Homo sapiens: one gene and its partner. The protein of the gene in region 1 interacts with the protein of each later gene in a pairwise test. Each region holds a gene or a part of one and is shown on either strand. Other genes may lie near its edges. The genes, in order: PPP2R3A and NKD1.

The links.
Region 2: the proteins of PPP2R3A (region 1) and NKD1 interact in binary tests that used the Homo sapiens proteins (3 or more experiments, as listed by UniProt).

Annotation. Positions count from the first base shown.
Region 1 is NC_000003.12:136,143,652-136,148,612, reverse strand, and holds the end of PPP2R3A (serine/threonine-protein phosphatase 2A regulatory subunit B'' subunit alpha), read right to left. Parts: intron 3,571-4,961; coding exon 3,447-3,570; 3' UTR 719-3,446; downstream 1-718. UniProt on the Homo sapiens protein: The B regulatory subunit might modulate substrate selectivity and catalytic activity, and might also direct the localization of the catalytic enzyme to a particular subcellular compartment.
Region 2 is NC_000016.10:50,642,185-50,649,478, reverse strand, and holds the end of NKD1 (protein naked cuticle homolog 1), read right to left. Parts: 3' UTR 230-7,294; downstream 1-229. UniProt on the Homo sapiens protein: Cell autonomous antagonist of the canonical Wnt signaling pathway. May activate a second Wnt signaling pathway that controls planar cell polarity.

The DNA of each region.
Region 1 (4,961 bases):
TTTTAGAGCTGACAATTTTATCTTTTTGGTTAGCCTTATTAAGTCTGCATTTCCGGGAGGAGGTGTAGTATGGTCCTAGGGATAAAGAATTCCTTTTATTTCATTGTATTCTTAGTTAAAACAATTTATTGGTGACCTTGTTGAAGAAGAGTAAAAGTTTTATGGGAATCAGATGAAAAATAAATTGTCCATAACCATATCATAGATAAAAAACAGAAATGCTTTAGAAAATACTAAGTTCAAAGTATGGTATTTTATACTTTTCTCTTTTTAAAAAAATTAAAAGCTAGGCACAGTGGTGTGTGCCTGTAATCTCAGCTACTTAGGAGGCTGAGGTGGGAGGATCACTTAAGCTCAGGAGTTCGAACTCAGCCTGGGCAACATAGACCTTGCCTCTGAAATAAAATTTAGGTACCCCAAAACATGCCGTTACACATTCTTTTAAAATAATGCATTATAGATGAGGCTAAAGTCTACCTTGATTCCTGTGAACTCCGCCTCATTCACAAACCCTGGTCCTCTTCCCTATCCCCTGAAGAAATCATTTCTCAGTATATTGTCATTACTACAAAGACCTTTCTTTGTAGTTTTCACATGGGCTCAAAGAGTTATTCTCTGACATTCAAGCTTGTTTACAGTGTTACTCTTGCAGACAAAAAAATGAGGTGCAAATATGATTAAAAGCACAAGTGTGTAGTAATTACCTTAATGAACATGATTCATATTTGACAACTTTATTTAGTTTTGCTAAAAGGGAAAAACAAAGTCATGCAGCCTTCTCCAAACACATCTTAACATTTCAAAAAGCTGAGCAAATCTCATTTGATGAATCTAGAGTTTTATAAACACTTTGAATGGTACACAGTGACAAGATGCAGGGAAGATATATGGAATTTTATTAGTTTGATTACCTTGGTAATGTTATGCTATTAAACTCATTTCTCATTGAATTAGCATTAAGGTCATGATAACCCTCAGCTTTTATCAAGGGGCCTGGGATATTATAATAACTTGAAAATTCCAGTTTGGCAGTAATGATTATACTTAACCATGATCTTTACCAGAAAGTCAAATATATTCTACCTTAATTCCTCAGAATTCACATTCCTTGCATTCAGCTCCAAGGAAGGAGTACAATAAAACACATTCTTATAATTCCTGAAAATGTGATAATGTGGGTAAATTACAATAGCCCATTTTAAATGGAATGGTATTGATGGATGTACTTTTATAATAGAGACTTTGTAAGAGAATGGGGTCTTGCTCTGTCGCCTAGGCTGGAGTGCAGTGTCGTAATCATAGCTCACTGCAGCCTCGAAGCCTGGGGCTCAAGCGATTCTCCTGCCTCAGCCTCCCAAGTTGGTAGGACTACAGATGTGCACCACCATGCCCAGCTAAATTTATTTTTTGTAGAGACGGAGTCTCACTATGTTGCCCAGGCTGGTCTTTACTCCTGGGCTCAAGTGATCACCTCCCTTGGCCTCCCAAAGTGCCGGGATTACAGGCATGAGTCACCATGCCCAGCCAATAATTAAGAGACTTCAAAAACCAGATCAAAGTGAAAGCAAGAGGACTTCAGTAAGGAGAACCAAGGTAAAAAGGTAAAGCCAAATAGTTAAAAAAAAAAATGTATATTGTAAAATTGAATTTTTACTTTTTGGTGAATCTTATTAGTTTAGATCATTATGGATAATAAAACATTTAAACCATATCTGGCTTCTAAGAAAAGTATTTTTTTTTTTTTTGTATTTCTATCTGAAATGAAATAATTGCTTTTCTTCCCTGGTAAAGGCTGGATGGATTGGTAGGAGATTTCATTTATCACATAAATAATCTTAATCTTAATAATTTATCAGTGTGTTTAGATTTTGAATATTGTGTTTCCTAAAAATTATTTTTAAGCTTTTAATTCTTTTGTGTGAACTATTAGATAGTTGCAATAGTTACTGCTTTCTGTAATAGTTAAATGGAAGATCAGTTCTAATCATGAAGATAAAATGACAGGGAACTGGGAGCTTGTGACAGGCAGGATTCCTAGGATTGTTAACTCTCACTGTACTGTACCTTGTTTATAGCATATTTATTTCCTAAATTCTCCTTTTCTTTTTGCCTACCATAACTCTAACCCAAGGTTCATTTCACTGCTTGGCCTTTATGCCAGCAAGGAGGGAACCTAGGTAGGGTGGAAAGGGAAGCTATTCTTGACACTTTCAGAACTAGTTAAAAAAAAAATCTAGGGGAAAAGTTGATGACTGACAGATGGATATTAAGTTGCTTGGGGGTTTTACTTACATCAGAAATGTCTATCCTTTTTAATAGTTTCTTTTCAAGGATATTATAGGATTTGGCTGGACTGTGGCCTGCTGAAAAATGTAGGATTCTGTAGTGAATACATCTACAACTACAGTAAATAACAGCTTTCTTTTATAGCTGTATCATTTTCCATTTCCTTGATAAATACTGAGGTGGATGAAATATCTGTAGTAATTGTTTTCAACATGAAGTAAAGAATAACGTTGAGGCCTTTACTATTAGCTAGTCTAATACTCCTGGGAGGAAGGAATATATCTATCTAGTAAGAATTTTAATGTATCATTATTCCTTTATGTCTTCAAGCAGGCCTTCTGATAGGAAGTGAAAACAGTTATCAACTAATTTGGATATTAAATACATCATTCAATAGTTCAATGAATAAAAGATAAAAGTTAAAAGGGCTTTTTCCAAGTATGAGTCAAATTCTATACTTCATTTAAGAAGTGTTTTTTTATCTTGAGATTTTATATAAGATCCACAGTCAGGGAGGTTACCAGAGCTTGCCAGCAAAGTTGGAAGGCCCAGTGGTTACAATACCTGAGGATGTAAAGTGACTAGTAGTTTGGCAGGTAACTGTGAAATTACATTAAGCCAGGTAAGTTAAAGATCTTTGAACTCCAGTATACATAAAAGAAGTCTCTGAGATGTTTTGGCAGTGCTTTTATTACTAGGGCTAAGTCAATTCTGGAGGCCCTTACTACTTTTTCAAGTTCCAGAATTTTCTGACTCAAGTTTTCTGCAAGTGAAGGTTTCTTCTAGGCTCCATAGGAGCCCGGAGGGGACTCAGGGATGCCAGCCAACACAGAGGCAACTTCAGTCACCTGTGTAGAGAACCGTGCTTGGTACTGTCGCCAAGAGATCCTTGGTACATTCAAGAGTGTAGAGTGCTGACTTTGGAAGGCGATGGTACCACTTCTGAGGAGAAGCTCCGTAAGAGGTTTGAGGCAAATTGGAGGAGCCTCCTAAGTTAAATGTGTATCCAGACCTATTGCTTAAAAACAAAGTTCCTAGTGCAGATGATACACACTTGGAGAAATCAAAGTCTTTAAAAAGCAGTATGCAAACGAGAACATCTCTTCACAAGAAAGAAACATTTAAAATACACATCTTCGTTTCATTGTAGACACCGGCAGCTATTCTTCATCCACTGATTGAAGCTTTCCACATTTCTCTGGAAGGCTTGCACTTAATATTTTATTGCTTTTGTTTCCAAATTCAGAGGGAGAGGCAGGTTCATCTGTTTCATAATCTTCAAAGCTGAAATAACAAAGCAAAAGTGAATTAACTGATTGATTGATTAAAGTTTGGGTAGAAATCAATATGGCAAATCCGAGCCTCAAGACCAGCCCACAAAGGTACCTTGAATTGCTAAATGGAGGCCGTGAGCAACTCAACTGCCGTGAAGGAGGCAACACTCTAGAGCAGAAAACACATTCTTCTCCCTGTTCCTTAAAGCTTAAGTCCATGTCAGAATTTGTTGAAAATGTTCCGTATCAAGCTTTCCCTAGGGTGGTTGGTGGGAGTGAGAGAATTACAGATGGTGCTAGGTAAAGAAAAATTTGAGGTCCATGAAGTATGAGCATTACTTGACCTTATTAAAAGTGGTTTCCACTCAGAGTGGCAAACCTTTTTTTTTTTTGAGACGGAGCCTTGCTCTGTCACCCAGTCTGGAGTGAAGTGGCACGATCTTGGCTCACTGCAACCTCTGCCTCCCAGGTTCAGGCGATTCTCCTGCCTCAGCCTCCTCAGTAGCTGGGACTACATGCATGCGCCACCACACCTGGCTAAGTTTTGTATTTTTAGTAGAGATGGGGTTTCACCATGTTGGCCAGGCTGGTCTGGAACTCCTGACCTCAGGTGATCTGCCCACTTTGGCCTCTCAAAGTGCTGGGATTACAGGCTTGAGCCACTGGTCGGCCAGAGTGGCAAACTTTCTCAACTCTCAGATTGCTTTATAGCTTCCCTCCGTGGCTTCCAAGCAACACAAAAAGATGTTCAAGTATGTAGGTTGAACTGACTAAAGTGCATTTATGGATTTCCCATCATTCTACTTTTTAGGTCTCTATAGCATACCTGGACCTGGATACTCATCCTGGGAAGATGTCCTTCTGCTAAACCTTTTAGGTGTTGCTGGTATCCCCTGAATTCTGTATCCTCCAGGCTACCCCTAAGGTTGGCTTTAGGCAGAGATGAAATATTTTCTCTTGGAAATGATGTGGCTGCCTGAAATATTGATAAATATTCTGAGGCTATATCTCTGAGCCTCATATGTAGATATGTACATCAGAAAAATGTACATCAGCAATGTCTATTATAGTATTTGACATCACTGGCTTAGCCCTTGCAGGGATCTCCCACAATATTTAAGCAGGAATTTGTGGACATACAGTCCCTTCATCAAAAAGGTACCAATTGGGGCCAATTAGTGAGGGAAAATATGCTGAGGTAGGTATATACAGTAAGTGGCACCTATTCAAGTTCCTAAAACATTGTGTGTGTTTTTTCTTTTGAGATGGAGTCTCGCTGTGTCGCCCAGGCTGGAGTACAGTGGGGCCATCTTGGCTCATTGCAACCTCTGCCTCCCAAGTTCAAGTGATTCTCCTGCCTCAGCCTCCCGAGTAGCTGGGATTTACAGGCATGTGCCACCA
Region 2 (7,294 bases), on another chromosome or scaffold:
AGGAGTCAAGGATGGCACCCAAGCTTCTGGTCTGGGTTACTTGTTGGATTGTCTTGCCATCTGCTGAGCTAGGAGCAGGTTTTGGGGTAAGATGATGAGTTTGTTTTGAGGCATGTAGTTGGGACTCGTTGGCAGCAACCTAGAGACAGTCATGGCAGTGGACGAGATCCCAAGAAGTGAGTCCACGGAGAAGGCCAGGCAGCCAGCACTGAGATCTGAGCAACGCCACTATTTTTAAAATTTTTTTATTTTGAAATAATTATAAATTATCAGAAAGTTGCAAACAAAGCCCAGTCAGGTCCCATGTACCAGTTTCACTGCCACCATCTTTAAAGGAGGATTAGACGAATCTGACTGCTAAAAGTGGCCCAGGGATTCTGGAGAAAATCCAACAGGTTTGCTATCAGGAAAGCAATTTCACTTACAATTCAGGTTTGACTGCAAGTGAAAGTGGTTGAAACAAGTGAGAAGTTGATTGCTTCCTCATATAATAGTCTAAATGTAGGTGTCCAAGCCTGGAATAGAGGTCCTGGTCCTCTAAGTTCTCAGGAACACAGGCTTCTTTTAGCCACTCCACATCTCTAGGGTGTTGTCCTCATGGTCCAAAATGGTGACTGGAATTCCAGCCATCACATCTGCTTTCCAGGCAGCAAAATGGAAGAAGGGGCACAGAAGAACAGAGATGACAATAGGTATAAACAAGCTCTCTTTTTAAAGGAGATTCCCAGGAGCTGCTACATGACACTTACTGTTGACTAGAGTTTAGTCACAAAATTTATTTGCGAAGGAGTCTGAGAACTGTAGTCTTTATTCTTGGGCTCAAAATCAGAGGCTGTATTACAAGGAAGAAAGAGTGTATTCAGGGGAGCAACTAGCTTCCTGTGCACAGAATCCAAGGGCAGAGGGTGTTCTGAAAGGGGGGATGTGTCAGTATCACAAAAACAATCAAGAAGTCAAGAAAGGTAGCAATGAAATGCCCAGTGGATTTAGGGGCAAGAAAGTCCAGTGGCAACTTGGTGAGGATGATGGCAATTATCCATCTGACCCCAGAACCCTTGATTCTGAGTGCCTAATGTTTTCCAGAGTCAGCTTTTGTCTAGTGGATGGGGCAGAAAGACAGAGGTGTTGGAGTTGAGGGTGTTGGACCAAGAGTGCAAATCCAGGCCACAGGTGACAGTACAGCGGCAGGAAGTGGAAATGAGGGAATGAAAGGGACTCTAGGAAGAGCCAAGAGGGACTGACTGTGAGAAGGACAGGAATGAGGACAGAAGGAGACAGCAGAGTGTGTGGCTTCCATGGTGTGGCATTTCTGGGTTCACAGTGGGGCCCAGGAGTGAGTGGCTATAGAAGAGAGAAAAGGAGGCCTTCCTGGTGGTGGGGGCCATAACACTGAGAGATCGGGGTTCAGACACCTGCGGAAATCACCCAGGTTGCTGGCAGGGTGTCAGGTAGAGGTGGACGCTGAGCCTCTGTGGAGTTTTCCCAGTTACTTCAACACCACTCCCAACTTTGCTGCCAAAAGAGCCTGTTTAATGTTCTTGTGGTTGACACCTGCCCCAAACCCTGAATGGTTCCCCCATGGATTCTCAGGAAATGTCCAAACCCCTCACCTTTTCCTTTGAGGTCCTTCTATGATCACCTGGGATGGGTTATGATGCTTTCAACTCTAAGCAACAGGAACCCCAAGTAACAGACACTGCCTGTGCCTGGCTTGTATCCCCTGTAGGAATCATTTCTGTTTGCTGGTCCAATTTCCGACTGCCAGTACCTGCAATTCTGCTGAAGCCTATGCCTATGCACAGAAATAGCCCTTGACCAATGACTGACAAGGATGGGTGGGTAAATACCTCAGCTCCCTCCCTGTGCAGGTGGGATAACTCTGAGGTATGTTCCACGTGGGCTCCTGGAGTGGAACTTCCCTTCCTTTTCTGCCTCACTTCCCCACTCTCCTCCCTGTCTTTCCCAGGACCACCTCAAAATCAACAACCTGCTCCTGAGTCTTCATCTCAGGATCTCCTCCTGAGAAAAACCAAATAACTAAAGTACAGATGCTGGGTGGCTGCCAGGTCATGTATAAGTGCTTGCTCAACATCATTCCCAAGGACCCAGCACTCTCTGTGTGTGCTCTGTGGTCCTCAGGCTGTAGCAAGATGGCCACTACCATGACATGTTACAAGTTCCTCAACAGACTTCCCTTCAGATCTCATTGCCCAGAATAAGGTCACACATGATCTTTCCTGAATCAGTCACTGGCAAAGGTGAGGACTTTGCCATGTCTGGCTTAGACGAATCACCTATGGACAGAAAGGATGATGGGGTCAACTACAGAGACCACACCACCATCCCATCATGTCTTCTAGTATGACTCTACCACTGTAGATATGTAATATAGTGAAAAGAAAGAGCTGGTTGATGCTGCTTGCCAACCAGCTGTGTGTTCTCACGATCTCACATTCATTCATTCATTCATTCAACATGCACATATTGAATGTTGACTGTGTCCCTGCTAGTTACTGGGGCTGGGGATGTGGGAGACAAGAAAAGCACAGAGGGCTGAATGTGGTGGGGTCTGGGTGGCAGAGGCATGACCCTGGGGATATCCTGACCCAGCTGTTTTGCCATCTGAAATGTCCCACCCCACTGTCTTCCCTTCAGGATCATACCTGCCCCCTAGAGCCCCTCTCCTCCAGGAGGCCTTTTCTGATTTTCCCAAACCAGGGGGTCCCATCCTGCCTTGGAGCCCCCTTGGGTGTTCCAGGGTGTTGTTCTGGGCTGACACTGCCTTGGCTGGCTCTGAAGTGTCCTTTCATGCCCATTACGAGTGACAGTGTTCTTGTTTTCCCCATTAAGGCTCCTAGAGGGAGGGCACTGTGTCCCCAGGGCCTGAGCCACAGCCAGGCAGCTCAACCCTGCAGGGCTGACCCACAGCCTGGGTGGACCCGCCCGGCCCCAGTCCCTGCCTCCCAGCACCTGCCACAAGGCCGCCTCCTCCCCACGCCATGTCTCCCATCAATTTCTTCTTTCATAAAAATCAATTTCTGTCCCGTTTTTGCCATGTACATAAAAGACTGTGGCATCAGTTAGCCTTCGTTCTCTCTCCCCCCCCCCTCTTTTTCTTCCTCGTCTTTTTTGGAAACCTCTTTGTAGGGAAAATCTCATATTTCAGCAATTTGCATTATCCACACACTCAGCTTTGAAGTTCTAAGTTATGGTAAGAAAAGGACCCACTTATCTGCCCATAAAAAATGTTCAAAGCTTATAAATTCCCTGAAACAGATGTACATTATCATTGGATTTGCCTTTCTTTTTGCTAGAGCATGCCTAATAGAGTTTCGGCCGCCCCCTGGCCCCCTTCCCCCGCCCCCGTTAGCATCTTGTCTCCACAGAAGCCCGCTCCCCACTGGGCCAGACCGACTTCAAAGGTCCCAGGCTGTCTGTTAGAAGCAAAGCACAAAGTGGGAACATAGGGGCCTTTTAAATCCCCCACGTTTAAGTCAATATCATGCCTCCCTCCTTTCCCCTCTCCTGGCAGAGGGACATAAGTCAGCCCTTCCCTTTCTGCCTTCACGAGAGCCAATTCAGCAACTACCAGAGAGAGGAAATTGGGGCCTCTTTCTCTCCCAGTCTCTCTGTCTTTGCCCTTTCTTTCTTGCCAACTTTTCTTTTTGTTCTTTCCCTCGCTTAAGAAGATGTTCGGCAGCACGGAAGGTAGTGCTGATCCCACATGTAAGCAAGCAAGCGGATCCTTGAGCGCTTTCATGGGTAAGAACGTCATAAACAACGTGCATCCATTCGGTTGCCGTGGGATCCTACCAAGAGAGCCTCCTCTCCGGGCTACTGTTTCCAATCCCTTCTCTGCGTGGTGGTGGCTAGAGTGTCACATCCTCTCTCTCCCGACTGACCACCTAGCTTCCTGATGTGTCTCTTGGGGTGACAAGCAGACTCTCCACCATTCAGGCCCCCAGATTCTGCCCATACCGGGCCTCCTCGTTGCCAGCTGTACCCGGCCATACAGGCCTGCACCAGTTCATCAAGCGTTCACCCTCCATCCACCCTTGAGGCCCTTGTACCAGCTGCTCCCTCTAACTTTCCACCTGGCTAATTCTTCCTCACCCTTGAGGTCACCCCCTAAATGTGGCTTCCTGGAGAGTCCCTCTGCAGTCCCCCATCTCCATCATGTCCCCTCTGTTATTCCCTCCCATGTCTCCCCAGAAGTTATCGCAGTGGATAAAAATGTCGTTTCTGGGTGGAAGCAGTCCCCCCGTCCCCCACACTAGATTAAAGCTCCACAAAGGTAGGTAGAGATGATGTCTGTTTTATCGAGTGCTGAGCATGGTTCCTGACACATAGTACTTGATCACTAAATCTTTGAAAGTACGGATGAACAGAAAGCCTGGAGATGACGGTGGTAAAGGCCAGCCAGGCCTGAGCAGGTCCTTTCTGGGCAGGAAGTGCCAAGTGTGGGTCTCTCTTTGCTCTGCCCACGTCTTGCCCAGAAGCTCAGTTTTGGCAGCTCCTTGCCACTGGGGGGTGGTCACACCACAGAGACTGGCCTGCAGTCTAACTAAACTGCTTAGCAAGACGGGGTGAGATACTCGAATGCCAAATTCTTTCTCCCCAGTGAAGAAAGGAGGGAGGAGGGAAGGAAGGGAAGGCGGGAAGTTCACATGCACCACACTGGAAATATTCTGGCCAGGAATTTCTGGACCAAATCACAATCAGATGCTGCCTTTTGAGGACAGAGTCAGAGGAAACAGAATCAGGTGATGTTGGCTAAGATGGCCAGGGGCCCATCTGGAGAGGATCTGGCCAGGGGACTTGAGCCACTCAGAGTCACCCTGGGCCCCAGTACCTAGATGTGCTGAGAGCCCACAGGCCGAGCCCAGTGACACCATCTGAATATCCCCAGGAGGTTCTGGGTTTCCAGTCTGTCTGCATGCTGTCACCCTTCTCTGGGGGCAGCATCAACATTCCAACAACTCTCAGCATCAGGAACCCGCAAGAGGGGTGCCCCTTTTCCCATCTGTCTTTATGAATTCTATCAACAAAGACACATGGAGTGTCAACAGCAGGCCATGTGCTAGGTCCCGCTGGGGGCGGGTGGGGAGGCCAGGAATGTGTTGTCCTTCAGTCGCTCAACAGACATTGAACAAGCACCTGTCTTTGCTGGGCCTTTGGGATTATAAGATAATCTGGTGAACAAGTGCTTTGGTGGAAACCAAATAATTAGAGGCATAGATAAGTACATACGGTGGATCCTCACCCTCCGTGGATTCTGTATTTACGAAATTGCCTATTCACTAAAATTTGTCTATCACCCAAAATCAATACTCATGGTGCATTCACTTCATTCGTGATATGCGCAGAGCAGTGAAAAGTCTGAGTGGCCCGACAACATGTTCTCAACTGAGGTCGAACAAGATGATGCTCTGCTTTCGTGGTTCAGTTCTCATCCTATACACAAACATCCTTCTCACAGTCTGTTTAGCATCATGCTTTGTGCATGTTTGTGCTTTGTGTTGGTGATTTGGCTGCTTAAAATGCTCCCCAGGCATGACGCTGAAGTGCCATCTTGTGCTCTTAAGCACAGAAGGCTCTGATATGCCTTGCAGAGAAAATATGTGTGCTAGATAAGCTTCATTCAGTCATGAGTTATAGAGCTGTTGGCTGAGTTCAATGTTAACGAATCAAGAATATATAGTAAATTAGGCATCTTTAAACAGAAGCACACATAAAACAAGGTTATGCACTGATTGGTAATGAAAATGTTGTGACCAGAAGCTGGCAGGAACCTAACCCTGTATTTCCCCTAGGATCAGTAGTTCAGTATGCGCTAACTCAGTGTCAGAGGTGACTTTATAAGATGTAACTACTGCGATGAGTGAGAATCAACTACAGTTACAAACATGATCAATGTTATGAATGAAGGGGACCACAGGGCACCCTGAGAGCTTGGGGCACCATCTTGCTGAGGCTGAGGTCTCGGCCACACCAGCAGCCCCAGCTCCCCTTGCCTCACGTGTCCCTGGACTTGGCTGGAGTAATGGCAGACAACGGAGTAGGACTGGTCTTTGTCAACCTGTATCAATGCCAGCAGGCTCCTGGAAAGGGAGGGTCATGTGGCTAGCATATGTCAGGCTTATGTTTAATCCTACCATGCATTAGCCACAAGTTAGGTAAGTTGCTTAACTGAACTGTAACTCTGTTTCCTCGTTGGTTTCCTCTCAAGGCTGTTTTGAGGACACTAGTGAATGTGGGCTGGGTGCACAGTAGGCACTCTGTAAGTGGCAGATATGGCAATGTGGACTCCTCAGCGATCCTGCAGCTTAGGAGTTGGGCAAGGACAGACCCAGATGTAGGGTAGCGAAGCATTGCTCCAGAGGCCACCTCTTTCCCCAAGGAAGGCACTGCTGGCATGGCTTTCAGGCTGCCCATCCCCACCACTACCCCTACTGTTTGTAGGACTTAGAGCTGCCACCCCCATAGTCTAGCTTCAAGCCAAGGGCAGTTTCATAATACAAATATGGTACTGAAGGCCAGAGACAGCAGGGGCTTGTCCAAGTTCACACCACAAGTCGGGTCTGGAAGGAACAGAGTGATCCCATCAAACTTGAGAGGGAAAAGTCATGTCCTCAAGTGTTTTTTGAGTGTGTAGCAGAGGCAGCATGCCACAGCAGCTGTCTCACTGGGGGCTCTGCAGCCGGGGTGGAGGACAGGTACCCTTCATCCATCAGGACTGCACCTCCTTTCCCATGAGCCTTCTGGGGTCACATTCTCCTAACTGCAGCTACTGTTGCTGTTTTACTTATCGAGGGCCTATTACGTGCCAGGCTCTGCGCTGAACGCTTCACGCCCACTGGATCATTTACTCATAACAGCTCAGTAAGGTAGTTACCCCAATTAGCCCCATGTTAGAGAAAAACACCAAGGCACAGAGGTGAGTCACTTGTCCCAGGTCACACATCTAGGAAGTAGTAGAACCAGGACTCAGCTCAGGTCCAAAGTCTCAACCATGGGCCAGTCTGCTCATCTTAGCCAAACCCCCAGGCTGCATTCTGTGGTCCAGCTACTGGATCCTGCAACCTTCTCAGACTCTATCCATGAAGCCAAGTGCACAGGATCTAGGACATCAGGTCCAGAGAATTTGGGGCCACATCTTCCTGGACCTGCAGATGGGCAAGGACCAGACTCTAGCCTGAACAGTGAGATGCAGCCCAGAGAAGTGGGAATCCACAGACAGAGCCTGGCCTGAGACTCCTACTGAGACTGCCCATGTGGCCACTCGGGGAGTTCC